4 linked regions of the Homo sapiens genome follow. The protein of the gene in region 4 interacts with the protein of the main gene of each other region in a biochemical or structural test. Each region holds a gene or a part of one and is shown on either strand. Other genes may lie near its edges.

Region 1 (8,115 bases), on a different chromosome or scaffold from region 4:
TTAACTTTTTCAGGCTGGGCGCAGTGGCTCACATCTGTAATCCCAGCACTCTGGGAGGCCAGGACGGGCAGATCACCTGAGATCAGGAGTTCAAGACCAGCCTGGCCAATACGTTGAAATCCCATCTCTACTAAAAATACGAAAATTAGCCAGGCATGGTGGTGCACACCTGTAGTCCCAGCTTCTAGGGAGGCTGAGGCAAGAGAATCGCTTGAACTGGGGAGGCGGAGGTTGCAGTGAGCCGAGATTGCACCACTGCACTCTAGCCTGGGTAACAGAGTGACACTGTCTCAAAAAAAAAAAAAAAAAGTTAACTTTTTCATAATATAAAACATTAAAAAAGCTGAGAGAAAAATCTGAAAACTACCGAAAAAAAGAGAAACACATATACCATAATTCTACAACCCCTAAAACACATTTTGTTGAATTACTGAACACTTAAAAAGCCATCTGTAGGCTGATGATGCAGTTGGGGAAAAGAGGAGTGTCATTCTGACCATTTCTCTTTCTCTGTATTTCATCAGCCTGTTTGAATTTCCAGAGGACAGGCAGGGAAAATGCTGGGGAAAACAAAAGTACAAGAGCCAGTCAGTTTTACCTTTCTTTTTGGGAGGCAAGTTTTCATACTGGAAAAGTTTTGAACTACCTGAAAACTTAGATTTGAGAAGAAAACTTAGATTTGAGGATTATTTGTGGAGTTTATTCTCATTCTCTTCCAGACTCATTACAAAAGATCTGAAAATTTGTTGACGATTTGAGAACTGCAGATAAATATGAATTTATCTTCTCCACACCTGCCCACTAAAAAATTACTTAGAAACATTATTACAAGGAAAGAAACAAAATCAAGCAAACATCTAATGCATTAGATGATTAAAGGATACATATTACAGCCTAAGTTGGAGAGAACATTACCCAACAAATGGCTTTTTTTCCCTGGGAGCTTCTACTGTGCAAGTCTGGGGATCTCCAGACCAGAGAAAAATCTTCCAGTTTAAACAAAATAACGAAAATGTTCCAATAACCAGATAACCTATCAAATAACCAGAATTTGAAGTGGGAAATGAAGGGCCATATCAATGGGGAGGAAAAATGGCACTGGTAATATCTAGAACAGAAAATAAACAGGAAATACTTTAAAAGGCCAAAATTTGCAAATACAGATTAACAGGGTATGAAATGAAATACGAGGCAATGCACCTGTTAAAGGAAAAAGGGGAACAGAGGATGTTTGAAGTCTTACGTATTTAGTGTTAACACTAATTCCTGATCTAGCTGTCATGTGGAAAGCATGCTGTCCAGAAGAAAACCTGGGTCCTGGCTTATTCCAAACTACACAGTACTTAATTTAAGTAGTAGTACTTAATCTCTCTCAGTGTCTTAATCTGTAAAATGGATACCCTTTATGTACTCACAGCTCTGTGTGAGTCACAAAAGAATTTTGAGCAGATGCTTTTTAACTCCAAAGTGCTGTACAAATCAGAGCATCCCTTTTCTCTTCACATTAGTTTGACATGGAATTTACTTCATAGATGGAAGAAAAATTATTTCAGGTACACTGATGATGAAAATGTGCCGAACGTGGTTAAACAAATTTAGGTGAGGACAATTATATAAGTTTACCTGAGAGGCCAGGCGCAGTGGCCTCACGCCTGTAATCCCAGCACTTTGGGAGGCTGAGGTGGGCGGATCACCTGAGGTCAGGAGTTCGAGACCAGCCTGGTTAAGATGGTGAAACCCCGTTTCTACTAAAAATACAAAAAAATAGCCAGGCGTGGTGGCGCACGTCTGTAATCCCAGCTACTCGGGAGGCTGAGGCAGGAGAATCACTTGAACCCGAGAGGCGGAGGTTGCAGTGAGCCGAGATCAAGCCATTGCACTCCAGCTTGTGCAACAAGAGTTAAACTCCGTCTCGAAAAAATATGTTTAGCTAAGAACAGATGAGTCTGAAGCAAGGGACTGAAAGTGCCACACAAATGGGCAAGCTGTAGAAACTGGTCGTATGAGGATTTCTTACAAACCACAAAAGCATATGCTTACATGAATATTCATCAATAACAAAAAAAATGCCACCAGTATTAACTGTAAACCACTTAGAAAATACCCAACAATATAATTTGTCCAAATCCCTCTACCAGCATTCCGGTGAGTGTGCGTGCTGTAGTCCTAACTCTTCTGTACATTACGACAGGACAAAACCCGCTTTTTATAAAACGTTTAGCAACTCGCCAAGAAACTGGCACACTTTACCTTTTTAATCGCTAAGCAAACATGTAGCACAGTTGAGATAACCAGGCGGACGTTCAGCCCTCTTCAAAAATAAGACACAGAAGTTTTACATTTTACCAGCCCGATGTCTAATACCGATCACAAGCCTCTATTTGATGCTCTTTCTAGATGTTGGCCACGGATCACGGAAGACTCCATTCTTTCAAGTTCTGAGGACTTTCTACGCTTCAATTCCTAAGCTAAATTGCCAAGGTTTTACTAGCACGAAAGTTTAAAGTCAACGGAGAGCGTGCCCTAATCCCTAAATCGATTAGGTTTATTACACGGCACCAGCGAGCAGGGACTGGAAATACAAGAGCGAGCGGGTCCTAACGCAGGTTGCCGCGGGACCCGACGCCCCGGGCCCGGACACCCTCCCCGGGGACGCGGGCGCGGCGGGCCCGGCTCCCAGACGGGAGGCTGCAGGGGGAGGGGAGGGAGAAGGAGGGAGGGGGCGGCCCCCTCGGGCCGGACCGCGGCCCGGCCTCCCTCCCGGCCCGCGCCGCTCGCCGCGCTCACCGCGTTCTTCTTCTGCACCATCTTGTCCATCTTCTTGGCAAAGCGGACCACTTCGTCCTCCATGGCTCCGGCAGGTCTTCTCCGCGCCCACCCCGCTGGCAAGGGGAAGTGGGCGAAGCTGGAGCGGAAGACACAGCAGGAGCGACCCCCGGCGCGCAGCAACCCCCACCACCGCAGGCCCGGGCCTAGGCCCCCTTCCTTACGAACGAAGCCCGCGGCGGCGGCGGCGGCGGCGGCGGCTCCGGCTCCTCCTCCCCAGGCAGCGACAATCGAACACCGCGCGCGACGTGCAGGCGCTACCAACTGACTGCAGATCGCTGGTGAGGGGCGAGCCCATGTTCCCGCCAGGCGGGCGTCGGGCTAGTGGGCAGGCGTGGCTTCCGGCTAGAGGGTCGTGGAAGGCGCCCGGTTTTGCTGCGCGTTCACCTCCGGTCCCGCCCCCTCACGGGGCGGGTTTTCGGCCCCCTATTGCATCGGGACATCCCGGAGTTTTAGAACTCGCGGAGGCCCAAGTATCTCGAAACGGGGGCAGATTCCGAGCATGGAACTTTGGCAGGTTTTAAAGTCTGTGGGAAGCCAAGCACTTTCTCCATAGGAGACTGCTACGGGGAAAAATGGAACCCGTGTCCTCTAAGTTAGGTTACGGAGTTACTCGTTTTAAGAGTTCCTTTTTTTTTGAGACGGAGCCTCGTTCTGTCGCCTGGCTGGAGTACAGTGGCGCGATCTCCACTCACTGCAAGCTCCCCCCCCCGGGTTCAAGCGATTCTCCTGCTTTAGTTTCCCGAGTAGCTGGGACTACAGGCGCCCGCCACCACGCCCTGCTAATTTTTTGTATTTTTAGTAGAGACAGGGTTTCACCATGTTGGCCAGGATGGTTTTGATCTCTTGACCTAGTGATCCGCCCGCCTCGGCCTCCCAAAGTGCTGCGATTACAGACCTGAGCCACTGCACCCGGCTAAGCGTTCCTTTTTTTAAAAAAAATCGGCCGGGCGCGGTGGCTCATGCCTGTAATCCCAGCACTTTGGGAGGCCGAGGCGGGCGGATCAACTGAGGTGAGGAGTTCGAGACCAGCCTGACCAACATGGAGAAACATCGTCACTACTAAAAATACAAAATTAGCCGGGCGTCATGGCCTGTGATCCCAGCCACTCGGGAGGCTGAGGCAGGAGAATCGTTTGAACCCGGGAGGCGGAAGTTGCGGTGAGCCGAGACTGCCATTGCATTCTAGCCTGGGCGACAAGAGCGAAACTCCGTCTCAAAAAAAATAAAAAATAAATAAAGGTGAAATCGTTCGTGAGCTCCTGGAGTACTAAGAACCAGTCTTGGGCATGGCATTTTGAATAGTTGAAGAACAGTTGACGGAAACCTTCTGGTCAGAAATTACACAAGGCATCCCACCAGCTTCTGAGGATCAGAGAGGAAGGTGACTTAAGTTGTGACAGGGTTCATAGTGGAGAATGCAGGCTCCTCCAAAAAGTCTTTCCCCACTTAAACCCTTCACGACCAACTCATGCTATTTGCAGGTATAACTCCCACACCACGTAACTATCATTCATCAAAATACACCGCCTAATAATGTTCTTTCTATACTGAGATGACAGGTTTTTCCTGGTTATGACTCACTCATTTGGGGGAGAAGTATTGGGATCGTTTCCCTATTTTGTTTCATTTTTAAATTATCTTTTTATTATTGATTTCCAGCTTAAATTGTAGTATTTGTTGAGATTTATTTTGTCAATTTTTTTTTTTTTTTGACACGGAGTTTTGCTCTTATTGACCAGGCTGGAGTGCAGTGGTGCCATCTCGGCTGGCTCACTGCAACCTCCACCTCCCAGGTTCAAGCGATTTTCCTGCCTCAGTCTCCTGAGTAGCTGGGACTACAGGCGCCCACCAGCACACCCGGCTAATTTTTTGTGTTTTTAGTAGAGACAAAGTTTCACCATGTTGGCCAGGCCGATCTCGAACTCCTGGCCTCAGGTGATCCGCCCACCTCGGCCTTCCAAAGTGCTGGGATTACAGGCGTGAGCCACTGCGCCCGGCCTATCTCGTCAATTTTTATGCATATCTATGTGTTCTAAAAAAGAACACACAGAAAAAAATTGTTTTCTACAGAAAATGTTGCAATATTTACATCCCTGTTTGCTGTCTGCTTCATGCCTCAATTAATGAGTATGTAAAAATTTCCCTTTATAATGTGGATTTGTACATTTATTGTAATAATTCTGTCATTTTTCTTTTTTCCCAAAGAATCAGTTGATGTTTTTCTTTAAAATACACATAACACAAAATTTATCCATTTAACTACTTTTCTTCTTTTTTCATGCTACCTTGTCTAAGACCATTTTTAACTATTTTTTTAGATTTTAATTCATTTTATTTTATTTTTTATTTTTTTTTAGACGGAGTCTCGGCCTATCACCCAGGCTGGAGTGCAGTGGCGTGATCTCGGCTCACTGCAACCTTTGCCTCCCAGGTTCAGGCAATTCTCCTGCCTCAGCCTCCCAAGTAGCTAGGATTACAGGTGCCCACCACCACGCCCTGGTAATTTTTGTATTTTTAGTAGAGATGGGATTTTACTATGTTAGGCAGGGTGTTCTCAAACTCCTGACTTCAGGTGATCTGCCCACCTCGGCCTCCCAAAGTGCTGGGATTGCAGGTGTGAGCCACCTCACCTGGCCTGTTTTAGCTATTTTAAAGTGTAAAGGCCTGGTGTGTGCATACCCAGTGTGCATGGGATACAGCAAAGGCAACACTCAGATGGAAATGTATAGCTGTAGATACCTATGTTTAAACATAAAGATCTCTGGCTGGGCGCAGTGGCTCACACCTGTAATCCCAACACTTTGGGAGGCCAAGGTGGGCGGATCACCTGAAGTCAGGAGTTCGAGAACAGCCTGGCCAACATAGTGAAACCCCGTCTCTACTAAAAATACAAAAATTAGCTGGTCCTGGTGGTGGCCGCCTGTGATCCCAGCTACTCGGGAGGCTGAGGCAGGAGAATCGCTTAAACCCAGGAGGTAGAGGTTGCAGTGAGCTGAGATGGCGCCACTGCACTCCAGCCTGGGTGACAGAGCAAGGTTCCGTCTCAAACATAAATAAATAAGTAAATATAAAATAAAAAAGTGTACAATTCAGTGGCATTTCTAATGATAACAATATAGTGCCACCATCACCACTCGATAGTTCCCAAAAGTTTTCCAAAAATGTTCATCACCTCAAAAAGAAACCCAGTATCAATTAAGCAGTCACTCCTGATTCCTTTCTCCCCTCAACCCTTGGCAACCACTAATTGGCTGCCTCTATACTCTTGAATATTCTGAACATTTTATATATTTAATAAATAGAATCCTAGAATATGTGACCTTTTCTGACTGGCTTCTTTCACTTAGCATGTTTTCAAGGTTCACCTGTGTTGTAGCCGTGTCAGTACTTCATTCCTTTTTATGGCTGAATAATATGCATTTCCTATAGATAACATTTTTAAAATTCATTCATCACATGATGGACATAAGCATTGTTTCCACCCACCTTTCACTACTCCACATTTTCACTCTTGTGAATAGTGCAGCTATGAACATGCCTGTACAAAGTTTTGTGGGAACACCTGTTTTCAGTTCTTTTGGGTGTGAACCTAGGAGTAGAATTGTTGGGTTTCATGGTAATTCTACATTTAAATTCGAGGAACTGTCCATCTGTTTTCCACAGCAACTGCAACATTTTTACATACCCATCGGAAACGTCATTGGGCTCGAACTTCTCTGTATCTTTGTCAACAATTGTTGTTGTCCTTTATTTTTATTTTTATTATTTCTTTTTTGATACAGTGTTTCGCTCTTATTGCCCAGGCTGGAGTGCAATAGCGTGACCTCAGCTCACTGGAACCTCGACCTCCCAGATTCAAGTGATTCTCCTGCCTCAGCCTCCGGAGTAGCTGGGATTACAGGTGCCTGCCACCATGCCTAGCGAATGGTTTGTATTTTTAGTAGAGACTGGGTTTCACCATGTTGGCCAGACTGGTCTTGAACTCCTGACCTCAGGTGATCTGCCCACCTTGGCCTCCCAAAGTGCTGAGATTACAGGAGTGACACACTGTGCCCAGCCTGTTTAGTTCATTTTTAGAATTCTAATTATCTGATGAGGTATGAAATGGTATCTCATTGTGTCTTTGATTGGCATTTTCCTAATATGTTAAGCATGTTTTCATGTGCTTGTTGGCCATTTCTGTGGTTTCTTTTTTTTTTTTTTTTGAGATGGGGTCTCACTAACAGAGTGACAACAGTCCAGGCTGGATTACAGTGGCACAATCTCAGCTCACTGTAGCCTCCACCTCCCGGATTCAAGCAATTCTCCCACCTCAGCCTCCTAAGTAGCTGGGATTCCTGGGGAGCACCAACACCCCCGGCTAATTTTCGCACTTTTAGCAGAGATGGGGCTTCACCATGTTGGCCAGGCTGGTCTGGAACTCCTGACCTCAGGTGATCCACCCACGTCGGCCTCTCAAAGTGCTGGGATTACAAGTATGAGCCACCTCCCCCGGCCTTCTATGGTTTCTTTAGAGAAATGTCTATTCTAGTCTTTTGCCCAATTTTTAACTGAGTTGTGTTTATGTTGTTAAGTTGTAAACGTTCTTATATAATTCTGGACTCTAGAGCCTTGAGATAAATATGCTTTTCAATCATTGTCTCCCTTCCCATTTTGTGGGTTATCTTTTCAGTCTTTTTTTTTTTTTTTTTTTGAGACAGGGTCTCACAGTCGCCCAAGCTGAGTCCTGTGGCGTGATCACAGCTCATTGCAGCCTCCACTTTTTGGGTTCAAGCAAATCTCTTGCCTCTGCCTCCTGAGTAGCTGGGACTACAGGCACACACCACCATGCCCAGCTACTTCTGGATTATTTGTAGAGAGAGGGTCTTACTATGTTGCCCCGGCTGGTCTCAAACTCCTGAACTCAAGCAATCCTCTCGCCTCGGCCTTCCAAAGTGCTGGGATTCCAGATGTAGGCCACCTCGCCCAGCCTCTTTTCAGTCTCTTGATATTGACCTTTCATGCACAAACTTTATATTTTACCAAAGTCCAATTCATATATTGCTTTTGTTACTTGTGCTTTTGGTGTCAAATCTCAGAAAGAGTTGCAAATCCAAGGTCATGAAGATTGACCATTGCCATTTTAACAACATTAAGTCTATCAATTCATTACAACGGGATATCTTTCCATTTATTTAGATCTATTTTAATTTCTTTAAGCAATATAACATAATTTTCAGTGTGCAACTCTTGGCTAAATTCACCTCATTGGCTAAAATTATTCTTGGTATTTTATTTTGTTATTTA
Region 2 (7,909 bases), on a different chromosome or scaffold from region 4:
TTTCTGAGTCACTGCCATTGGCAGCGGTCACTGGAGCAGCTGCCCCCACTGAACCAGCCATGGCAGAGGAAGTCTTTTTCTCGTGAATGAGCAGTGCTCGCATGACCTCTTCGTTGTCATCAGGCCCAGCATGGCCTTCCTCACGCTCCTGAAATGCGTCCATATCTATGCCCCCTGGGGAGTAAAACTCAGAAAGTCAATATCCTTAAATATAAATGGCATTTCTTTATAGCATATAGACAATATTTTAACATATATTTAAATAATACGATAAAATAACAGACTTCACTGGTTCCATTTTTGAGCTGCTATCCATAAAATATTCAAAATATTTCTTACAAACTGGAGCTTAAGTAGCATAATGGTCAAGTACATTGGCTTTAAGAGTATTATAGCATAGATTTGAATCCTGGTTCTTCTACACACAAGCATCTTGGGCAAGTTATTTAATCTCTAAACTTCAATACCTTTTTCTGTAAAATGAGGTGATAAAAGCATCTACTTTCTAAGGTTCTGAATAAAAACATATAAGATAATGTCTATGAAGAATCGACTAGAGTAGCTGGCATAACAGAAAATCAAAACATGGCTCTTTATCTCACTCAAGGTAAAAGCCAAAAGCTTTGCAATGGCCTATAGGGTCCCACATCATCTGGAATCCTTCCTGATCATCTACCTCTTACTTCTTTCCCCTGCTCATTCTTGTCTAGCCACAGTAGCCTCCATGGTATTCCTTGTACATATCAGACACACTCCTACCTCAGGGCCTTTGCATTACCTGTTCCCTCTGCCTGGAATATTTTTCCTTTAGGTACTCACACAGCTAACTCCCTTCCATCTTTCATGTCTTTATTCAAATGTTACCTTTTAAATGTATCCTATCCCTACATTCCCAATGCTCTATTTTTCCCCCATAGCACTTATTTCCTAACATAATGAATAACTTACATCTATTGTCTTTGTCACCCCCTTTCCAAGGATGTAGGTTCTACCACAACAGATATTTATCTTGTTTATTCATGGATATATCCCATTTACCTAAATAGTACCTGCCACTCTGTTAGGCACTGAATAAACATCTGACAAATGAGTGAATAAATGTGAGTTTTATTTTCATGAAGCAAACTAAGCATACTTAAAACTCTTTATAAAAAAAGAATCTAATTTTAGGAATGAAGCTTCTCTCACCACACACCTCCTATCATTTTGTGTACATATCTTACCTGATATACTGCAGATGAAATATTTAAGAAAACCATCTGCATTCTGCATTCTGATACTACTACCAAACATACTGCCATTTAAAATACATAAAAAGATTAAAAGTATTGTTTGGAACCTGACTCCCTGATTCAAATCCTAACACTATTTAGCTGTATGATTCTGGCCAAGTTATTTCATCTCTCCGCTTCAATTTTCTCAAGTACAGAAAGGGGGAAAATAGTATTTACTTCACTAGATTACTGTGGGGATTAAGTGAATGTCTGTGAAGTGTCTAGAATGGGCCTGGCACTTAGAATAGTGTTATCTATCATCATCGTCATCAAGAGAAGACTCAGAAATGGTCAATTCTGACTATGGATAAAGTGAAAGCATCTTCTCATTAACACATTAAAATGAATTAGCTAAATCCCTGGACATTTTAGAAGGCACAGAACTCCTAAAATGAGATACTGAGCAGATAAGAGAGAGAAAGGGAAACAGAAGCAGACAAGTTAAAAGTTTAGGTCAGAGAAAAGAGGCTTTTGATAACATGACTGTCAAAATGAGAGTTAAAATCAAACTTAACTACTTCAAAATATTGTCAAAGGCTGAACCTCCTCCTTAGAGCTTACTGCCAATGCAGCACTACAACAGAAAGAAAAGAAGGTAAGGAATGCATGCAAGCCTTTAAGACAATAATTGCTTCTAAAAGAATGTTCCAAATAGTTTAATAATATCAACACAGTATTTTGATTAATGTTTAAGTATTAAATTAGGGAAAAAGAAAATTAGTTTTGTAAACTAAATTAAGTCACACGTAACAGATTTCTGACAAGGGTCTTGAGAGGTTTGGAGAAAAAAGAATTATTCTGTTACAGATGAAGACAGAAAACAAAAAACAAGGATAAATGAGCAAATTTCTGGATGGTAAAGTAGAAACAGTGGTTCTAGGAACAGCCTTTTTCAACAGAGTTATAAATTACAAAGAAGATGTATACTGGGAAACTATATTCACGGAATTGATGCTAAGCAATTGTGGGTACTGAAAGGCCAAGTTGCAGCAAAAAAATATAGGAAGAGCTGAAGGTTGTATACGTGGGCAGAAAAGTAGCAGATCTATTTCTATTTCAGCAAGTGCAAGAAAATCAGCCTGCAGAAAAATAATCTAAAATATACTGAAAGATATGATCCAAGCTATTGGATTCAAGGCACAGAAGAACCTAAAAAGTACCTCTACGTGTTTCTAGAAGTTTTTGGTCTTAACATGCTTCCAGAACCAAAGCAACAAACAAAATCTCAAGTAAAAACCAGAAAGATACTGGAAATAAAACTCAAATCAATGGTGAATCCATGCATGAACAACATGTATCATTCTGGTCACTATGTCTCAAGTAAAGTATATTACAATTAGAGATGGTCCAGAAAAAGACAAAAATAAACAAAAACTGTAGGAGGTGGCAGCAGTGGAAAAGAGAACTGTTTAAGGAAAACAGAATCAAAAGGAATTAGAACTTTCTTCAGTATAGTAATGAGAACATGATTGAAGTCGATACAATTGTGAAAGATATCAACATGACTTGAAGTTTGAGGAAAATCAAGTGTTAAGACCCACTTCATACATTCACTGGATAGAGTCTGCTCTACTATCAAGAAACTTAGGATAAATTCAGACATGACAACATACTATCCTATTTTATGCAGAAATAAATATTTACAAAACTTAAGTAGACCAGATAACTTATTTAAGGCCCATATGATTCATATTCTATCATTTTAGGAACTGTAAACTAGAATGTTAAACTTATGAGCTTAATATATAATGTTGGTTAATAATAATTTTATTTTATTCAGTTTTCTTCCTAAGTTCAAAGAAAAGAAGGCTGCTTTAAGAACAGGCAAGAAGCCAAGTTGGGGAAAACAAATTTATTAAGTAGTAGTATAGCCTAACTACTGTATAATCTAAAACAACTTCAATCTAAATAACACAACAGGCTGGGCACAGTGGCTCATGCCTGTAATCCCAGCACTTTGGGAGGCCGAGGCAGGCAGATCACTTGAGGTCAGGAGTTTGAGACCAGCCTGGACAACATGGCAAAACCCCGTCTCTACTAAAAATACAAAAATTAGCTGGCCATGGTGGCTTGCGCCCAATTCCAGCTACTCAGGAGGCTGAGGCAAGAGAATCACTTGAACACGGAAAGCAGAGGTTTCAGTGAGCCAAGATCGCACCACTGTACTCCAACCTAGGCAACAGAGCGAGACTCCGTCAAAAAAACTAACATGGCAGGCTAATCAGTGAGGAAGAAGGAGGGTAAAGTATGGTTGCCTTGGAAAACCTTTTCTTATTAAAATTAATATATCAAAGAGAATCACAGTAGAGGTATTAGCTGCTTTACCATCACTACCAAACTCCACGTTACCTTCACAATTTCTAGTATATACATATACTAAATGCTAATTATGAAGGGAAAAGAGGCTAGGAGAAACGCCAAAAAACAAGTGGTTTTCAGCTACTGATTATTCTTTGGCACTAACATATCACCAAACTCACGTGATATGTTAGTAATGATATATTAACTTGGGAGTAGCGGCACATTGATTGTTACACTGATAAAATTCAGCAAGAAATAGAGACACCCTTCCTCTCTACTTTCCAGCTTGAGTCATCGTCATCCATTTTTGCCTCCCATTTTCTACATACTCCTAAACCATCATCACTCAAAGTCTTGAATGCAGTAACTTAGACTAAAACTTAGAAAGTAAAATCTTGCAGTTCTCTAACTTCCGAAGATTAGTATGCAATTCTTAACCCTTTATGCCTCAGAAATTTCCAAAATCCTCTAGAACAAAGTTCTGCTAACCGTCTTGGACTGTGAGAATGCTCAATCCTTTATTCATGTGGTCTCTTTGTATCTATTTCAGGTAGCATACACTCCTTGGTATTTATGAAGAGAAAACATAAAGTTTGGGGTAGCGTATAGTTTTGGCTCCCAATTCAGAAAAATTAAATGCATATAAGTCAGGGTAATATAAGATTAAAGGAAAGGTGAGTATGGCTACCTTGAAAACAACAGATAGCATTTTTCCAAGAAATTAAGATAAAAAGATGACAATTTTTCAAATCTAAAAATGAAAATTTAAAAGGCTATTTGTTATTTTCACTAAGTTGAAGGGCAATGGAAGTATACTAGTTGGTTTTTATCTTATTGTTCAATTTCTTACTTCCTAATATAATGCAATTAATTGTTCTGTAGAACAGATCCAGAATTGCCCAGGCAGTTTCCCACTAAGCCAAGTTCATGTTCTACAGAACCTAAGACACATCCATTTTACTGACTTCTACTCTTACCTTCTTTCATATCTTCAGAACCATATGCCCCTTGGACAGTGCTTTCTCTCAACCAAATAGGCCTCTCTTTGGCAGATTTCCCTTCCAGTGAGGCTCGATGAAGATCTTCTTGGTCATCCATGTTAATGACAACATTCTGAGTGTATAAGTCTTCATAGGAAGGACCTTTGGTGGCCCATGCTTCCCGGTGGTGCCCACCTGCTAGGCTAGCAGCTCCAGCAGTAGTTGCTGCATGGTCCTTGCTATATAAAAAGAATAGAGGAGTACAGGAAGAAGAAAAATTAATGTCTTGGTGTTGGAAAAGAAGGGCAGCTAGGGAGGCAATTACTGAAATACTACATGTAAATGCTACCTAGCAATCATGCACACATGCTTTAACAATTCCAAGAAAGTGCTTCTATACCTCAGGGTAAAAGTTGTATGCGTTAGAAAAACACATCATATTTATATTTAAGTTCCTCAAACATGGGATCCTCTGATGTATATAAATGACTGAGGTTTTATAGATTTAAGATGTTTCAATAAATCTATTAATACTTGGAGAAGGAGAAAGTGATATGGTGACATCATCTACTTAAAGCCACTAGTCTGACAAAAATCTCTCCCAGTATTTTGTTTAAAAAACAAAAACAAAACACATTGTATTTTTAAAAATGTTATCTCAGCTCAACCCAGAACAATTCAAAGTGGTTCTGTGTGCTTTTTCCTTTCTTTTGTGTGCTGATCATGGAAAAAGCTAGAAAACTATTCTACAAAGCCTGACCTCAACCAACGTTCTTCTCCCACCACTCATGCAGTAAGGTATAACCCTCTGCACAAACTAGCTGCTTTTCTATGTAGTTGTATGTTTCTATCTCCACATCTATGCTGATACTCTGTATCCATCTCCAACCACTGATTCTACTCTGCAGTAACAATGGTCTGTTTTTCTCAGTCTATTTTATTTTGCTTTTTACTTTTACCACCCACGATCTTCTTTGTCTGTTAGCCTGTTCCATGTCTGATCATTTCCTTATCTTCTAGTCACTTAAGTTCCCCCCAACCTCTGTGTTAGGCCAAGTTTTCAGTATTTCTGATGGTTCCCCATTTTATCTGCCTGTTTCACTCTCAATCTGTTCCAAATTCTTTCGAATATGCCTGATTCTCTGTCTGAGCTCATGCCTTTCTCTGCCTGCTACTGATGCTTTCCACTTCAACTTCTACGTATGCTTCTCCACCTCCCGCTCTGTCCAGCTATTTTTTATCCTGTAACCATCTTCATGTTTCTTGAACTGCCTGCTCACTCCAAACCTTTTGGGTGTTTCTTTCAGTGTCCATGACTGACCTGGTCTCACGTTTCTCCTTTATTTTTCGTCCGTTTTTCTCACTCTTTTCCATGGATCCTGAATTATCTCCTGTGTGGAGCCCCGACTCATTCTGAATCTAATAAATACTTCATTAGTCTTTCCTCCTAAGCCATTCACTATTTTGCCTTCACTTTTGTCTTACTTCATCTCTGCTTACTCCCTTACTCTTCACTTGTTCTGGGTCCACTTCTTATCTACTGGGGTTTTCTAACTCATACTTAGCTGAGGTCTGTGTCCGTGTATCTGATTAGCCCATCACATCTTTCCCTAAATTACACTGTGTTTCTGACCATCCTCTGGAGGTAAACTTGGGCTTAGCTCATCCCACCTATCCTGTCCTGCCTCTGGATATCTATAGGGCCATGCTACTTGTGCAACAAAAAAATAATGTTATCTCCAGTTGCCCAGTCCACACTGATCCAGTCATTTAATCCATGCCTTCCAGGTACTGCGTTTGCATACTTTTCATTATTCCACCTCTGTGCCCAGGGCTACTTTGTAAACCACTTTCTCCCACAGCCTTTTTCTTCCCGGTGCCTGTTCTACCTGTTCCATGTCTCAATCACTTCTTTTGCCTCCTCACTGCTCCTACTTTCTACCAGTTATTTGCTCTCCACTCTAAGTCTAGACCTATGAGGCATCTCTCTGTAAATATATCCAATCCATCTATTTTTTTTTTTTTTTTGCTATATTCTGAAGTCTTATGCTACAATTGCACATAACTGGTTTCTCTCTGCTATTTCTTTCTGCATTCATTGATGTTACTTTGTGTATCATTTCTTGTTCATCTCAATTTAACCATTAACTGTCCCTAGTCATTCTCTATCTTCTATCTGTTCTGTGTGGTCTTTTAAAGGCTATGTGGCTGCCTTCACTGTAATATGATGCTGCTTACTTTGTATAGGTTGGCTTTTCGAACTTTTCTCTTCTTCAGCATTCACTTTACTTTCTCTTTTCTCTTGGTCTGATCTGGTTTTTTATGTTTCTGTGCTTATTCTACATTCTGGCCTCTCCTCTCACACCCATTTGTCTCTCTGACTCCTTTCAATGCCTCTTCTATCCTCAGCCAACATCCCCATCTTGATGTGCTGAGCCTGCTCTATATATCTGCCACCCCAAAATGTTTCTCCCTGAGTTAGCTAAACCCACCTGGGAGAGACAGAATAGGCATATTTCTCTGATCTGGCCAACCACATCCTTATCTTTCCTTGATTCAGACTTAAATGACTCACTCACTCTGAGGTTACTGCTTCTCTTTATATATAATCCTGAACACAGAGTTTTTCTCTATTCTCTATCTTTAGCATTGACTACAAAGACTGTCTTATGAAGGTATGAGGAGTACTTTGAGAAAAACAAGAAAGCTAGAGAGAAAAGAACAGAATTAAAATAAATGTTAACACAAGAGTACTTTTAAAAAGTCTTTTGTTTTTAGTATTCTGTCATAGAAATTCAAGATGGGTTTTATTCTAGTTTGAGGCAGCAGACATTTGACCATAAGTCAAACAAATTTTAAAATTTGGAACAATTTTAATTGAAGATGACAAAAATGACAATTCATGTTTGAATCTTTTTATATTATTTAATAAATTTTAGAACTTTTAAAAGATACAACTCTTACTCAGAGATGAGAGGGGAATATTATTTCAAAACTAAATTTTTAAAAATCTTTAAGGTAAGTGTTAAGAGATGATGAAAAAGGGAAGGTTACTAGCAAGGAATTCCACTCTAGAAAGATAGGAAGATTTTTATATCTCATCAATAGGTTGACTTGCTGAAAGGATAGAATTGTCCATCAATTCTTGGGTTAGGCCTACTGACAGTTCTGCAGAGGTAGCCCCTAGTTTCTGATCTAGGGACAAGCTAGAATTTAACTGATTACAGATCAGTAATCAAACTAATAATATTGCCACTTATTTAAAAAAAGAAAAGCTATCATCTCTGAGTTCCCATACCATTCTATTGATGCCTCTTCTCTTGTACTGAGGCAGGATGGACTATTACATCCTTG
Region 3 (7,823 bases), on a different chromosome or scaffold from region 4:
GCCGGACGCCCCCCGCCCCAAAGCTTATTGGAAAATTCACTTTTGTAAAGCAAATGTATTTCCAGAGCTATTTTCGGCCGCGTGAGGCGTGTCCTAAGCTGAATCAGACAGGAAGAGGGGGAAGTTCGGGTCTTTTAATTTTTTTTTTTTCCGAAGGGAGGGGAGTGAGATGCTAGGTGGGTGACAGACGGCAGGCGCTCGCCTTCTTAACTCACGCCTGTCGCATCTGCCGCCTCAGTAATCCAGCCCCGTCCAAGCCGAAATTCGCCGAAGGGAGTGCGGATGCACAGGCCTGGCGGACTCTGCCCCCCTCCAGAACGCAGCGGCCCAGCGCCCCGGCGGGCGCGGCTGCGACCAGAGGGTCCCGGAAGCGAGTGAACACCTGCAATCGCACTGCCCGTCCCCACCCACCCTGCTCCCCCGTGCTCTCCGCTTCCCGACGTTTTCCTCTTCTCCTTGTCCGCATTTTTCTACTTTGCCTGCACTCCCTCCTTCCTCTTGATGTGCCTCCTATGTGTCCCCTCGGATTTATGTGTCCCCTCGCATTTTGCCAGTCGGGTTTTCGGTTTTGATTGACCGTCCATCCCTCCACGGAGAAACACAAACACAGCTCCACTCTTTGGGGGAGCCGAGGGGAAGGCAGTGGCTCCCATTTCTGAGCCTGAACTCAGTCACTACCCGCTCCCCACCTGGCCTAGGCGCCCCTGCGCGGAGAAGGCGGGACTCGAACTCGCGCTGCTCCCGGGCCTTGAGCCGACCGCGGAATCACCTGGCTGGGAGGCATCCTCCAGGTAAGCTTGGGAGTATGTGTGCTTAGTGCTGCAGGCTCCTGCAGAAAAGTGCCTATAAACACCCAACACCCTGCTGCACCCTCCACCTCCAGGCTTTGTACACTTTCCAACCGAAACTCCAAAACGCTAGCGTAGAGGGTGGGGAGCCGGCCGGAAAAAGAATAAAAGTCCAATAAAACTGGCGTTCGCTAAAGTTTATCACCAGTCCTACATGGGATATATATATATGTATTTTTTTTTCCGTGAAGGGTGAAAAGGAGATAAGGAAGAACCAACAATCTACCCCCTCCCGCCGCCCCCCACCCCCGCGCCACGGTGATCAGTTTGGACTTCAAAGCCAGAGCACAGGCTCTTGCGCTTTTTCTTGAAACCGAAGTCTACACTGAAAGAAAGTGTGCACTTTTGCCTAGAAGGCAACATGCGTTTTCCCGCGTGCTAGGTGGAGTGCATTTTAACAAGACATTAGGGTTTTAACACATGGCTGGAGTGGCGACCAAAAGGGAAAACTCAGTTTCCAGTCCAAGCCTCCTAGAGACATTCCTGCCAACCTCCGCACCCTCTCACGCCCCACCCCACGTGTGAGAGTCTGCAAAACCACCGGGGATTGGATTCGATGGCGAGCTTCACGCTCGGGAACAGTCAGTAATCGGAAGGGGAAGTGGACAGGGGAACTTCAAGAGGCGAGCCTGCCACGCGGGAAGCGCCCGAACTTGCGGGTCTCCATGAATGCAGAGGGCGCCGGGAAGGGGGGGCATCCGGCCGCGACCCTCTCTGCCCCTCCCATTCGCTGCCCCCCTCCCCGCTGGAATTTCTCTGTAAAGCAAGACGGAGTAGGGGGAGGGGGAGAGGGAAGGGGCGAGAGGGCCCTCGGCTCACTCCCGAGACGTGAGGACTCGCCACCCAGGCATTCTCCTCGGGGTGGGCTGGGCCCCGGGACGACCACCCGCTTCTTCCTCGCCCCCGCTGCCCCCACTTCGGGAGACCCAGAGCTCTGGATGCCTTTCCCCGGAGAAGGGGGGGTGTGCGGAGTCGGGGTGGAAGAGACCTTGCTCGCAGAGCTATATCAAGTGATGTCCAGAGGCTGGGAGCCCCGGCGGCCTCTGTCCCTTGCCTGTCGGGTTAGATTTATACTTTAAAAATACCTCCCGCCCTCCCTCCTTCTCTCGCCTCTCCCCGCTGCAACTTTCTTTGATCCGCTCAAAGGTGGCTTAGGTGAAATTGGAGTAATTCCCTTATGGGGGTCTTAAAATGTAAGTGAATGTCCTTATCCGGGGTGACTCAAAAGCTTAAGTCGGGAAGCCCAACGTGACTAAAACCAATAGGTGATTGTTCGGGGCCGACTGTGTGCGGGTGTACACGGTATTCGGCCCGGGTGTCATCCGCGGCGCTGGACTGTTTCATTTTGAGTTTGCAACTTGGGTTTTTCAGCGAGCTTTTTTTCTTCCTGAAAGCTAATGGCTTCCACAGCAATTAGACATTTTCCTCGCCCGCCCCTTCCCTCCCCTTTCTTTACATATAGGAGATGGGATACTCATTCCCGCTGCTATTGATAAGGTCGGAGGCGGCCGGGCCTCTCCCCAGCTTTCGCCCGCCCCAGCGCCCGCTCTCCCTCCGCCCTCCCTTGGCTTCCTTTTGATGTAGTGGGGAACGCGTCCTACTAAAAAAAAAAAAAAAAAAAAAAAAAAAAAGTAATCTGCCCGGTAACAATCAGCGCGCAGTAGCAGGAGCCCCAGAGCTATTGGCTATGCAAATAGAGGGAGGGGAGACGGCGCCCCAAACTCTTCCTCACCCTTTTAAAGCGATATCCCCTCCTTTCCCCCCCACCACCCCTTCCGCCCCACCCTCGTTTAAAGAGGCTGGCTCCGGGGCCTGAGTTAATCGCTTGCACCTCTAGTTTATTCGCTCCCCTCCTCCGCCTTGCAGGGAACCTAGTGTACGGCTCACCCAGCCCGCGCCCCACCCCGCCTTGCTGGCTCTCCGCGCCCCTGCCCGGGCCCCCTCTCTCGGTGAGGGAGGCACTCAGTCGGCCTCGGTGTGCCCAGAGAGCTCGAGCCACGCCATGCCCGCTGCACGTGCCAGCTTGGCCAGCACATCAGGGCGCTGGTCTCTCCCCTTCCTCCTGGAGTGAAATACACCAAAGGGCGCGGTGGGGGTGGGGGGTGACGGGAGGAAGGAGGTGAAGAAACGCCACCAGATCGTATCTCCTGTAAAGACAGCCTTGACTCAAGCATGCGTTAGAGCACGTGTCAGGGCCGACCGTGCTGGCGGCGACTTCACCGCAGTCGGCTCCCAGGGAGAAAGCCTGGCGAGTGAGGCGCGAAACCGGAGGGGTCGGCGAGGATGCGGGCGAAGGACCGAGCGTGGAGGCCTCATGCCTCCGGGGAAAGGAAGGGGTGGTGGTGTTTGCGCAGGGGGAGCGAGGGGGAGCCGGACCTAATCCCTCACTCGCCCCCTCCCCCTCCCGGGCCATTTCCTAGAAAGCTGCATCGGTGTGGCCACGCTCAGCGCAGACACCTCGGGCGGCTTGTCAGCAGATGCAGGGGCGAGGAAGCGGGTTTTTCCTGCGTGGCCGCTGGCCGCGGGGGAACCGCTGGGAGCCCTGCCCCCGGCCTGCGGCGGCCCTAGACGCTGCACCGCGTCGCCCCACGGCGCCCGAAGAGCCCCCAGAAACACGATGGTTTCTGCTCGAGGATCACATTCTATCCCTCCAGAGAAGCACCCCCCTTCCTTCCTAATACCCACCTCTCCCTCCCTCTTCTTCCTCTGCACACACTCTGCAGGGGGGGGCAGAAGGGACGTTGTTCTGGTCCCTTTAATCGGGGCTTTCGAAACAGCTTCGAAGTTATCAGGAACACAGACTTCAGGGACATGACCTTTATCTCTGGGTATGCGAGGTTGCTATTTTCTAAAATCACCCCCTCCCTTATTTTTCACTTAAGGGACCTATTTCTAAATTGTCTGAGGTCACCCCATCTTCAGATAATCTACCCTACATTCCTGGATCTTAAATACAAGGGCAGGAGGATTAGGATCCGTTTTGAAGAAGCCAAAGTTGGAGGGTCGTATTTTGGCGTGCTACACCTACAGAATGAGTGAAATTAGAGGGCAGAAATAGGAGTCGGTAGTTTTTTGTGGGTTGCCCTGTCCGGGGCCCCTGGCATGCAGGGCTGGATGGAGGGAGAGGGGTGGGGGGTGGCGGGGGACCGCGTTTGAAGTTGGGTCGGGCCAGCTGCTGTTCTCCTTAATAACGAGAGGGGAAAAGGAGGGAGGGAGGGAGAGATTGAAAGGAGGAGGGGAGGACCGGGAGGGGAGGAAAGGGGAGGAGGAACCAGAGCGGGGAGCGCGGGGAGAGGGAGGAGAGCTAACTGCCCAGCCAGCTTGCGTCACCGCTTCAGAGCGGAGAAGAGCGAGCAGGGGAGAGCGAGACCAGTTTTAAGGGGAGGACCGGTGCGAGTGAGGCAGCCCCGAGGCTCTGCTCGCCCACCACCCAATCCTCGCCTCCCTTCTGCTCCACCTTCTCTCTCTGCCCTCACCTCTCCCCCGAAAACCCCCTATTTAGCCAAAGGAAGGAGGTCAGGGGAACGCTCTCCCCTCCCCTTCCAAAAAACAAAAACAGAAAAACCTTTTTCCAGGCCGGGGAAAGCAGGAGGGAGAGGGGCCGCCGGGCTGGCCATGGAGCTGCTGTGCCACGAGGTGGACCCGGTCCGCAGGGCCGTGCGGGACCGCAACCTGCTCCGAGACGACCGCGTCCTGCAGAACCTGCTCACCATCGAGGAGCGCTACCTTCCGCAGTGCTCCTACTTCAAGTGCGTGCAGAAGGACATCCAACCCTACATGCGCAGAATGGTGGCCACCTGGATGCTGGAGGTAGGTCGGGGGGTGGCGCTCGCCAGGAGCCAGGACCCCTCCGGATGCTCGGGTCCCCGGCCGGAGCCCTAAACCTGGGAGAGGGCAATCCCCGCGCCGGCCTCCCGGCTCCTGTGCGGGAGTTTACCGCGCGCCTTCTGGCGAGACGCGTGGCTTTATTTCTGTTCCTCTCCAGATAAACTGGGGAGGCAGAGGGGGGAGGAAAATCTGGGAGAAGCGAGGCTGTCCTGGGCGGGGGTAGGGGAGCATCCCGCGCGCGTGTTCCTGCATGTGGCTGCCTCTTCTTCCCACCCCCCTCGCGACCTGTCTTTTGCGAAGCCGCCGCGGCTGCTTGCGCTGCGGCCAGGAAGAGAGTCGGGGCCTGAAATCGGGACCCCGAGTAGAAAGGCAACCCCCCCCAAAAGGCCAGAGCAAATTCGTCTTGGCCTCAGGTCCCCGCCTGTGGTCGCGACTCCGCGCTGGCACTTCACCGGGGAGGTGGAGGGAGGAGGGAGAAGGAGAGAAACGGGGAATTCGGGAGCCCCGGAAGTCCCATTGAAGAAACGCGTGTTTCAGGGGAACCCAAAAGAACCGCTTCTTGCCCCTCACTCCAAGTCTTTGCCCAGCGAGCCGTGTGCCCACGTATGCACAGCTCTGGACCTGCCGTGGTTTCGCCATGTTGCTTTGCAAACTCCCTTTGGAAAGGCTGGGAAACGTCGCCCGCTTACCCTCGCACCCCATTATCCCGGCCACCCCACTTCTAATCGTGCCCTCTCCCCCACCCCCCACCTCACGAAGATTACTTACAGTTTGGTTTTCCAGCTTCCTCGGTGCGGAGATTTGGGTGGGGTAGGAAGGGGGGGAGGGGGTGTGTGTAGGGGGGATACCGGGTCACCCCTGAAGGAGAGGTGGGAGCCCCCCGTGCCTCTTTCCAGGGCTCTCTGCTCCCGTCTTTCCCCTCGCTCGTCACCGCGTTCCCTAGTTTCTGTCCTTGTGGGCCGCAGCCGGACACTCCCGCCGCGGCGCTCACCCCTTCAAGTTTCCTCCCGGGATCCAAAGCCCCAGGGGTCGGAATACAGACCTTTCTGGCACCCGAAACCTCTGTTTCGGGAAGCCTGGCTCTTCTTTGGGGTTTTCACGCCAAAAGGGCTTTTCTAGGATATTTCCTCGATTTTTAATTATTTTTTGAAACCATCCCCCCCTGCTCCGACTCCAGCTGCCGAGGCTGCGGCGCTCTTCCTCCTCTCCTCCCTCCCCCTCTCTTCCCCACCTCTCCTCACCCGCCCCCCCAAAAGCGGCCCCTGGGCCGCAGGGACCCCCCCAGACATTTTTTCCAATTGTCGGGAATGATAGAGGAGGATCTGGGGATCCGGATGAGACCAAGAAGTGGACCCCCGGAGCCTCCAGAATATTTTTATTGATTTTTTGAAAAGATGACGAAATCCAAAAAAGAGTGAGTGAGTTAGAGTGCGCGAAGGAGTAGCCAAAGGGAGCGTCGCGGAGCTGCCGCGGCTGCTGCGCACTTCTCCGACTCCCCGTTTTGGAGCTGTAGTTCACCCCCTTTTATAGGATCCCTGGGAATACCAAAGCACTGATGGGCTATTCTGATTCACTCCAGTTTCCTCATCTTTGTTCTTTATTCTTATCACGCATTCTGGTCCCCTCCCCCTCCCACAAAAAAAAATTAATTTTTTTTGTTTCGATAGATTACGCTTTTTTATTCTTTTTCTCTTTTGCTGATGCTATGCTCTCCACCCCCGCCCCCCAACCCTTTCCCACTCCCATTATAGGTCTGTGAGGAACAGAAGTGCGAAGAAGAGGTCTTCCCTCTGGCCATGAATTACCTGGACCGTTTCTTGGCTGGGGTCCCGACTCCGAAGTCCCATCTGCAACTCCTGGGTGCTGTCTGCATGTTCCTGGCCTCCAAACTCAAAGAGACCAGCCCGCTGACCGCGGAGAAGCTGTGCATTTACACCGACAACTCCATCAAGCCTCAGGAGCTGCTGGTAATGACCGGCCCCTTCCTCCCTTCCTTTCTGCGATTCCCGCTTTCCCCTGGCCAACAATATGCCTTCTATCACCACTGCCAGAGCAAATTCTTGGGATCCAGAATGACCCCACCAATAGAATTTACCCACTTATGGGCGATAGCTCATTTAATAGGAAACCACTGTTTATTTTTTGTGTGTTCCTACTATGTGCCCAGGCTCCGTGCCCAGCACTGAGGCTACATCTGTGAATAAGATCCTCATGGAGATTTGGGTTGGTGAGACTCATTTGCAATTGTGTATGCATGTGTGTAGGGGACGCATGGAATATTTTAATTAACAGTGATAATATTTTAATTAAATTCCAAATTTCCAAAAATAGTCTGAGAACGTGTTCACATGATAGGTATGTGGCTGTGGTGTCTCCTAAAAACTTGGAGTTCAAAGGTAATGCCCTCTATATCTACAAAGTCTCAAGATACCAACACATAATAGCTGTTCACTAAATATCAGTTCATTGACTTTTGAGCAAAGTCAAAATGTGGCCTTTCACTGAAGGAGTCCGAGGCCTGGGTTCCTACCTCCAGTGGGACTGTGACCTCTGTACAACCCCAGGGATCCTGTCTTATCTCTGCTTTTCTACCAGGGAACCTTTTTCCCACCTGATCTAACTCCTTTTCCCTGCAGCTTGACATATAAGACGACCATATTGCAGCTGTACCGCATGGAATAGCGGCTCCAAGGCCCACCTTCGGTGGTTTGCACACCCCTCTTTGCACTGTTCAGAAAAGCACCCCCTCCTTCCCGCCCCTCCCCCTCCTCACTGGTAGGGCCCGCACAAAGTCCACAGGGCTGAGGCTGGCTTCTTGAACTGAGCTCTTTGTGAGGAGCCTTCCTTTCTGGGGCTCTGCTGCCATCTAGTGGAAGACATGCACAAGGTTGGGGGAGGAATTGCCGAGAATGTGGAGAGGGGCCTGAATGACTTCACCTTTGAACCGCTGCCAGGTTTTAGCTGCTTCTGGTTTGGTCCGAGAGGCCTAGAAAGGTGCTTTCTTCTGGGAGATCTGCTTCCTTTAATAACGGTGCAAGACCAGTGGTTCGTACTCGCATTACCCTGTGAAGAGGAAGGGCTGGCATTTCAAGCCATCTTTGAAGATGATGGTGGTTTAGTAGTTTATTGGGGTGCTTTACCCCGGCT
Region 4 (7,909 bases):
TAAGCCACCGCACCCAGCCCTAAACTTTTTTTTTGAGACAAGGTCTGTCTCCTCTAATTCGGTGTGAATTTTTCGGTTCTGTTTTTCTCCTGTGCTGTCTCTGCACCAGCTCAGCTCAGCTCCCCAGCCTTCGCCGCCGCAGCCTCTTCAGCCTGCTGACCGCAAGTGCGCCCTCTAAAGGCCCCAAATGCCCTATACACACCAGGTGGAGAGTGCGGCAGCGCCTGCAGAGCCCAATTAAAGGTGAACCCCAGCCTGTTACCCAGGCTGGAATGCAGTGGCACAAACGTGGCTCACTGCAGCCTTGACAACCAGGCTCAAGCAATCCTCCCACTTCAGCCTCCCAAGCAGCTGGGACTACAGGCATGCACTACCAAGTCTGGCTAATTTCTTGATTTCTTTTTTTCTTTTTTTTTTAGCTAGTGTCTTGCTCTGTCACCCAGGCTGGAGTGATGTGGCACGATATCACCTCCTTGCAGCCTCAAATTCCCAGGTTCCAGTGATCCTGCCAACTCAGCCTCCTGAGTAGCTGGGAAAACACGCACTCAATACCATGCCCGGCTAATTTTTGTATTTTTGGTAGAGACAGGGTTTCACCACATTGCCCAAGTGGGTCTCAAACTCCTGAGCTCAAGTGATCCACCCGCCTTGGCCTCCCAAAGTGCTGGGATTACAGGAGTGAGCTGCCCTGCCTGGCCTAGATGTAAATTTCTGATGTAATAAATTGTAGTTACCCTCAGAGCAAACTGAAAATATGAACAGGCAAAGAATTCTAGGTTGAGCATCATTTTCCCTCACAATGTGAACACTTCCAGATTCCAGTGCTGCTGTTGAGAAGGCTCATGCCATTCTTTTTCCCTAATACTTTATTTTCTTTTCTATGTATGCTGCTTTTCTTCTCTGTGCAAATAAAATATTTTTCTTACCCCTTCGTATTCTGAAATTTCACAACAGTGTGTCTTGGCACAGGTTTTTTTTTTTCATGCAGAGCCTTTAGAATTTTTTTTTGAAAGTTTTCTTTGTAATTTTCATAATTGTACTCATTTTTTTTTTTATTTTTTGAGACGGAGTCTCGCTCTGTCACCCAGGCTGGAGTGCAGTGGTGCGATCTTGGCTCACTGCAAGCTCTACCTCCCAGGTTCATGCCATTCTCCTGCCTCAGTCTCCCGAGTAGCTGGAACTACAGGTGCCCGCCACCACGCCTAGCTAATTTTTTTTGTATTTTCAACAGAGACGGGGTTTCACTGTGTTAGCCAGGATGGTCTCTATCTCCTCACCTCGTGATCTGCCTGCCTCAGCCTCCCAAAGTGCTGGGATTGCAGGCGTGAGCCACCGTGCCTGGCCTTTTTTTTTTTAGACGGAATTTCACATTTGTTGCCCAGGCTGGAGTGCAATGGTGTGATCTCCAGCTCACTGCAACCTCCACATCCCGGGTTCAAGCGATTCTCCTGCCTCAGCCTCCTGAGTAGCTGGGATTACAGGCATGTGCCACCAAACCCAACTAATTTTGCATTTTTAGTAGAGATAGTGTTTCTCCATATTGGCCAGGCTGGTCTCAAACTCCCAACCTTGGGTGATCCACCCACCTCGGCCTCCCAAAGTGCTGGGATTACAGGCATGAGCTACTGCGCCCGGCCTCATAATTGTACTCTTCATGGCACTTTTAGTCTGACGATTCACATCTAGCAGTGCTTCACTATTTTGAGATTTCCTACCCTCCATTTTCCTTGTTTTCTGTTGGTACATTCTAGAATCCTGGATCAATCTGTTAATTTTATCTTTTCTCTACTATAGTCCATCTATCTTTTTATTGAGACAGGGTTTCACAATGTTATCCAGGCTGGTCTTGAACTGCTGGGCTCAAGAGATTCTCCTGCCTCAGCCTCGCACGTAGCTGGGACCACAGGTATGTACCACTGTGCCTAGCCATCTCTTCATCTTTTGATTTTAGTTAATGAAAGAGTTTTGCAGCTTACTTTCCCATTCCTTTCACTGTTTTTGTTTGCTTTTGGCTATCTTCTATTTTTAATAGTTCAAGTGTCTCTTATTTTATTGTTCCCCTTTTAAAAAAGTATGGTGTGCTTATTCTATAGATGCACTATAATCTCTTAGATCTCTGAATATTTGGAAAGGGGGCTGGGGGCGGTGAATTTTCTTCTGCTTTGGTTGTTTCCATTTTTTCCAAGTTTCTTTTTAGTTTGTTTCAGTCTGCCTTTCATTTTGGAAGTATTCATTACTATCTGAAGATCCTTAATAACTATCTGGTGATCCCTGGCTAAGCATTCATATGGGCAACATTTCTACCTTTTCAATTGAGCACAAGAACAGCTTAAAATAGGACAAAAGGTATGGCAGAAGAGTACAATTCTTTAGTCTGCATGTCATTTTCCTTATAACTTTAAAGATGATTCCAGCAACAATGCCAATGGCTAATAAATTTCCAAGTATGATTGTTAACAGGTCCACAATCTCTAACCTGTCTACTCTCAACTGCTGTCTCTCTTCATTTGCTTTCTCAATGGAGTGATCAGTCATAACATTAGGGGCTATGGAATTCTGTTTTCTTCTTGGCCATGAATGGATTGTGGTGGTTGATAAATTCTCAGTGTGAATTTCTGGTATACTCTATGTTCAGGTAAGTAGCAGTTATCATGCCAGCTGATTCACAGGACCCCCTGTTAGCACTGTGATTCCCATATTACCTTCCAAGTTTGAATGTGTGGGTTTCTTCTACAAATGCCCATTGGGTAAGTTTCTCAAAATGATGCACAGAATTTACTTTTTTTTATTTTAAGAGATTGGGGTCTTGCTATATTGTCCAGGCTTGCCTCAAACTCCTGAGTACAAGTGATCCTCCCACCTCAGCTTCCCAAGTAGCTGGGACTATAGGCGTGAGCCACCACTATGCTTAAACTAAACATTTTTAGTTTAGTGTTTTTCTCTTTGGTGTACAAAAGTTGTTTTCTGTGTTCAAGGAGATAAAAAAGCTATTCAATCTTGGTTTGAATTTCTTTAAATACATATGGCTTAAGGAGAGGGAGAGCAGGGGTCAGAATATGGAGAGAAAAAAACTAGCTTCAGAAGGATTCCCCTGTATCCCTTTACCTTCATCATTCGTAAGGGCTAGTCTTTCTGGAGATCTAAACTTCATAGCTAAAGAGAAGTTTCCAAGTCAGCATCTTTCTCTCTGGTGAGGGGAAGCAGGGGATTTTTTTTACTGTAAGATGATGGTCTCAGTCACAGAAATGCTATAGTAACATTGTATCTGTTCTGTTTCAACAGAACTAAAATAATGGTCTCACACAAGGCTTAAGTTATACAGAGTAGTAGCTGCAGTGGTTGGTATTATACATTTCCTAAAGCGCACTTAAAACAGACCCAAACAAAAAAACCCTCAGGAGGACAAAAGTTTATCTGAACATATTTAGTTGTTATAGAGATACTGCCATATTACAAGTGAATTTCTATGTTCTGAAGTATAAAACTTCTACAGTAAAGTTCTTATTGTCCTAAATGGAAGATATTCTCATTTCATATTAACATTAAAAAATGCTACATTTGGCTTTTTAAAAATTGGACTATTTGTAGGCTTTTTGTTGTAAAGACATTGGCAGGACAAGAATTCTTTTCTTTTTCTTTTTCTTTTTTTTTTTTTTTGAGATGGAGCCTTGCTCTGTTGCCCAGGCTGGAGTGCAGTGGCACAATCTTGGCTCATTGCAACCTCTGCCTCCCAGGTTCAAGCGATTCTCCTGTCTCAGCCTCCCGAGTAGCTGGGACTACAGGCACCCGCCACCATGCCCAGCTAATTTTTCTATTTTTAGTAGAGATGGGGTTTCACCATGTTGGCCAGGCTGGCTTCGAACTCCTGACCTCAAGTGATCCACCTGCCTCGGCCTCCCAAAGTGCTGGGATTACAGGCGTGAGCCACCATGCCTGGCCTAGGACAAGAATTCTTATACAAACTGTCAGAACAAATAACTGCAACAACAATATTAAAGTGCGTACATTAATTTAGACTTACCCTTAGAAGTAACTCTGCTAATATACAGCCAACAGCCCACATGTCCACACCTACACCATACATCCTAGCTCCAAATAGTAACTCGGGGGCCCGATACCACCTAAAGAACAAAAAGAATTAGTATCATTTTAGCATGAAATTATCAAAGCACTTCTATCTCTAGGGATGAACGATCCTTGTCTGTTTTCTGTTTTTAAAGGCAATCCCTTACTTTAAGGACTAGATACCATACTCTTTCATGAAGTTTTAAATATAATACTCTTGCAGTTCTCTCCTTTTTCTCCTACAGCAGTCTTTTGTTTTCTACTAGACTTTTCCCAACAATGTACAAACATACCAGTATTTTTCCAGTCTTAAACTTCTCTGGACCCTACCTCCCCTAATAGGTGCCTCCTCATTCTCTGCCCAGTTCAAAGAATTGTCTATTCTTACTGTCTCCAATTCCTTTTCTTCCATCCTCTCTTAAAACCTTTTCAGGCCGGGTGTGGTGGCTCACGCCTGTAATCCCAGCACTTTGGGAGGCCGAGGCGGGCGGATCACGAGGTCAGGAGTTTGAGACCAGCCTGGCCAACATAGTGAAACCCGTCTCTACTAAAAATACAAAAAATTAACCAGGCATGGTGGTGGGCGCCTGTAATCCCAGCTACTTGGGAGGCTGAGGCAGGAGAATTGCTTGAACCCGGGAGGCAGAGGTTGCAGTGAGCAGAGATCGCGCCATTGCACTCCAGCCTGGGCGACAGTGCCAGATTCCGTCTCAAAACAAAACACCACACACACATACACACACACACACACACACACACACACACACACAGAGAACCTTTTCAATCAGGCTTTCATCCTTACCATTCCATCAAAACTGCTCTTATCAAGCTTATCAGTCATGTCCACACTGCTAAATCCCATTGTCAATTCCCAGAGTCTTCATCTTAATTTGATTTACCAGCAGCATTTGATTTACAGACAGAGAAAATATGAGAAACTGGTAGATGAGAAAGCTCTGTTAACAATGCTCTTGTACACAGGTCCCTGTTTCTATGAGTTCCTGAATGTTGAGCTTAACTGCTCTAGCAATTACATAAACAATTACTCACATCCCCTACTTCTTACTCAGGGCTTAGGTGATTTATACTCAGTGACATCTATTTGGAAGAAGGTGGCAAAATAATTTAAAATAGAGACTTTGGGGCCAGGCACAATGGCTCACACCTGTAATCCCAAAACTATTGGAGGCTGAGGTGGGAGGATCGCTTGAGTGCAGGACTTTGAGACCAGCCTGGGCAACATGGCGAAACCCATCTCTATAAAAACTTTAAAAAATTAGCCAGCCATGGTGGGGCGTGCCTGTGGCCCCAGATACTTGGAAGGCTGAGGTAGCACGATTGCTTGAACCCAAGAGGTCAAGGCAGCAGTGAGTACTGTTTGCACAACCGCACTTCAGCCTGGGCAACAGAGCGAGATCCTGTCTCAAAAAAGAAAAAGAAAAAATACAGAATTTGAAAATCTTTGCAGATCCTTAAAACGGTCTTGGAAATTAACAAAATGCCACTGGGACAAAAATTATAAAATCTATCATTCCTATTTAATGTGATTTTCTGTTTTTTCACATCAAAAATACAAATGGAAAATATAATTACCAATATGAAAAATTCAAATATCAAGACATTGCTCTGTTTAGAGAATTTTCATTTACATAGAAGGATACAGAATCAGCACTGACCAACATAATAAAAATGGGTCCAATAAATCAGATGATTAGGTAGAAGAATATCCACTGAAATTCTAGATTATCTAACTAAAATGTTAAAGTATAAATTGTTCCCATTTACAAGGTAAATGTCTTAGGATTAAGTTAGACTCTGTTTGAAAAGGGGCTATGTATTTTTTCATCGTGGTAAAGTATACCTAACATAAAAATGACAGGTTTTTTTTTTGTTTGTTTTTTGTTTTTCCCTGAGAGGGAGTCTTTCTCTGTCGCCCAGGCTGGAGTGCGGTGGTGCAATCTCTGCTCACTGCAACTTCTGCCTCTCTGGTTCAAGCAATTCTCCTGCCTCAGCCTCCTGAGTAGCTAGGATTACAGGCGTGCGCCACCATGCCCAGCTAATTCTTTTGTATTTTTAGTAGAGACGGGGTTTCACCATGTTGGCCAGGCTGGTCTCAAACTCCTGACCTCGTGGGTCTGCCTGCCTTGGCCTCCCAAAGTGCTGGGATTACAGGCATGAGTCACCGCGCCTGGCCAAATGGCAGTATTTTTTAAGACGGTATCTATCAACAATGATTCCTTAACTCTGCCAAGATAGTTCAGAGAAGCCAGTTGATGCTCATTTCTGATCAAACTCCTGCACATGTAGCTTTAAGAGATTCTTACCTGGTTACAACCTGATGTGTATAAGCTCTATTGGGGCTCCCAAAAGATTTGGCCAGGCCAAAATCTGCCAGTTTTAGAACTCCATTTTCATCTAGCAACAAGTTGTTTGGTTTCAGATCCTATATGACGGAAGTTTTAAACAAACAAATAAGCAGGGTAGGGGAGAACACTGTAGTGCTACATTTAGTTGGCATAACTTTAAACTTAGCAAAAACAAGGTAACACCTGAAATCTAAACAATCAATTTTTTTCCCACTGATATAAAATCCCATCAAAGCAAAATTGGATTGGTTATAATATATAACCTTGGTAAGGAACTTAATTTCACTAAGCCATAATTTACATACTTCATAGAGTTTCTGTGAGGATTAAATCTGATATTTTCTGTAGTCTAGTGTAATAACTGGCTCATAGTAGGCACTCAATAAATGGTTCCTACTATTAATAATAAATATGAACTTTCATAATATACGTTGTTAATGTATAAGAATGAGGATGACATTCTTCAAAATCCATGCTAAAAAGACATCAGCAATAACCTAAGAGGGATTCCAAACTTACGATATGAGAATTACTAGTTATAAATTATATATTCTTAGCTACTTATCTAAATAGCTAGGTAGCTAGCATCTACCTAGCTAAATTATCAGCTTTGTTCTAAAAGCTGAATGTTCCCACTATTTCATAAACTGTATTTTGTACCTTGAATTTTAGAGCTACAAGAAACATTACTTTTCTAGTATTTTGGCATTGTATGAGTTAATCCAAGACCATCTCTATATTTTTTTCCCCACAACAACATTGTAGCACAAAGAATACTGAACTTAAAGCCAAAAGACCTATGTTCTTTTTTTTTTTTTTGAGACAGGGTTTCACTCTGTCACCCAGACTAGAGTGCAGTGGTGAGGTCTCAGCTCACTGCAACCCCCACCTCCTGGGCTCAGGTGATCCCCCAACCTCAGCCTCCTGAGCAGCTGGGACTACAGGTGTGCACCACTGCACCCAGCTAATTTCTGTATTTTTTGTAGAGATGAGTTTTCACTATATTGCCCAGGCTGGTCTAGAACTCCTGGGCTCGAGATATCTACTTGCCTCAGCCTCCCAAAGTGCTGGCAACACAAAAGTGAGCCACCATGCCTGGGTCAAAACCTATGTTTTAATACTCTGTCCATTATCAGCAGCCAACCTTGAAAAAAAATATAACCATGGTCAGGTCACTTAGCAACTTAGCTCTTCATCTATTAAAAAATGAGGAGGCCGGGCGCAATGGCTCACGCCTGTAATCCCAGCACTTTGGGAGGCCAAGATGGGCAGATCACGAGGCCAGGAGATCGAGACCATTCTGGCTAACACGGTGAAACCCCGTCTCTACTAAAAAAATACAAAAAATTAGCTGGGCGTGGTGGCGGGCACCTGTGGTCCCAGCTACTCGGGAGGCTGAGGCAGGAGAATGGCATGAAACCAGGAGACGGAGCTTGCAGTGAGCAAGAGATCGCGCCACTGCACTCCAGCCTGGGTGA

What was found.
Region 1: the proteins of CDK7 (region 4) and TCEA1 form a complex in vitro, tested with the Homo sapiens proteins (one study listed by BioGRID).
Region 2: of the proteins of CDK7 (region 4) and GTF2E1, one has a biochemical effect on the other in vitro, tested with the Homo sapiens proteins (3 studies listed by BioGRID, with this or other methods).
Region 3: of the proteins of CDK7 (region 4) and CCND2, one has a biochemical effect on the other in vitro, tested with the Homo sapiens proteins (one study listed by BioGRID).

What each region holds. Positions count from the first base shown.
Region 1 is NC_000008.11:54,019,276-54,027,390, forward strand, and holds the start of TCEA1 (transcription elongation factor A protein 1), read right to left. Parts: upstream 3,174-8,115; 5' UTR 2,851-3,173; coding exon 2,788-2,850; exon of another isoform or gene 2,758-2,787; intron 1-2,757.
Region 2 is NC_000003.12:120,773,308-120,781,216, reverse strand, and holds part of GTF2E1 (general transcription factor IIE subunit 1), read right to left. Parts: intron 4,795-7,909; coding exon 4,553-4,794; intron 175-4,552; coding exon 1-174.
Region 3 is NC_000012.12:4,269,578-4,277,400, forward strand, and holds the start of CCND2 (G1/S-specific cyclin-D2), read left to right. Parts: upstream 1-4,184; 5' UTR 4,185-4,463; coding exon 4,464-4,658; intron 4,659-5,718; exon of another isoform or gene 5,719-5,900; intron 5,901-6,427; coding exon 6,428-6,643; intron 6,644-7,823. UniProt on the Homo sapiens protein: Regulatory component of the cyclin D2-CDK4 (DC) complex that phosphorylates and inhibits members of the retinoblastoma (RB) protein family including RB1 and regulates the cell-cycle during G(1)/S transition.
Region 4 is NC_000005.10:69,258,417-69,266,325, reverse strand, and holds part of CDK7 (cyclin-dependent kinase 7), read right to left. Parts: intron 6,509-7,909; coding exon 6,390-6,508; intron 4,122-6,389; coding exon 4,022-4,121; intron 1-4,021. UniProt on the Homo sapiens protein: Serine/threonine kinase involved in cell cycle control and in RNA polymerase II-mediated RNA transcription. Cyclin-dependent kinases (CDKs) are activated by the binding to a cyclin and mediate the progression through the cell cycle.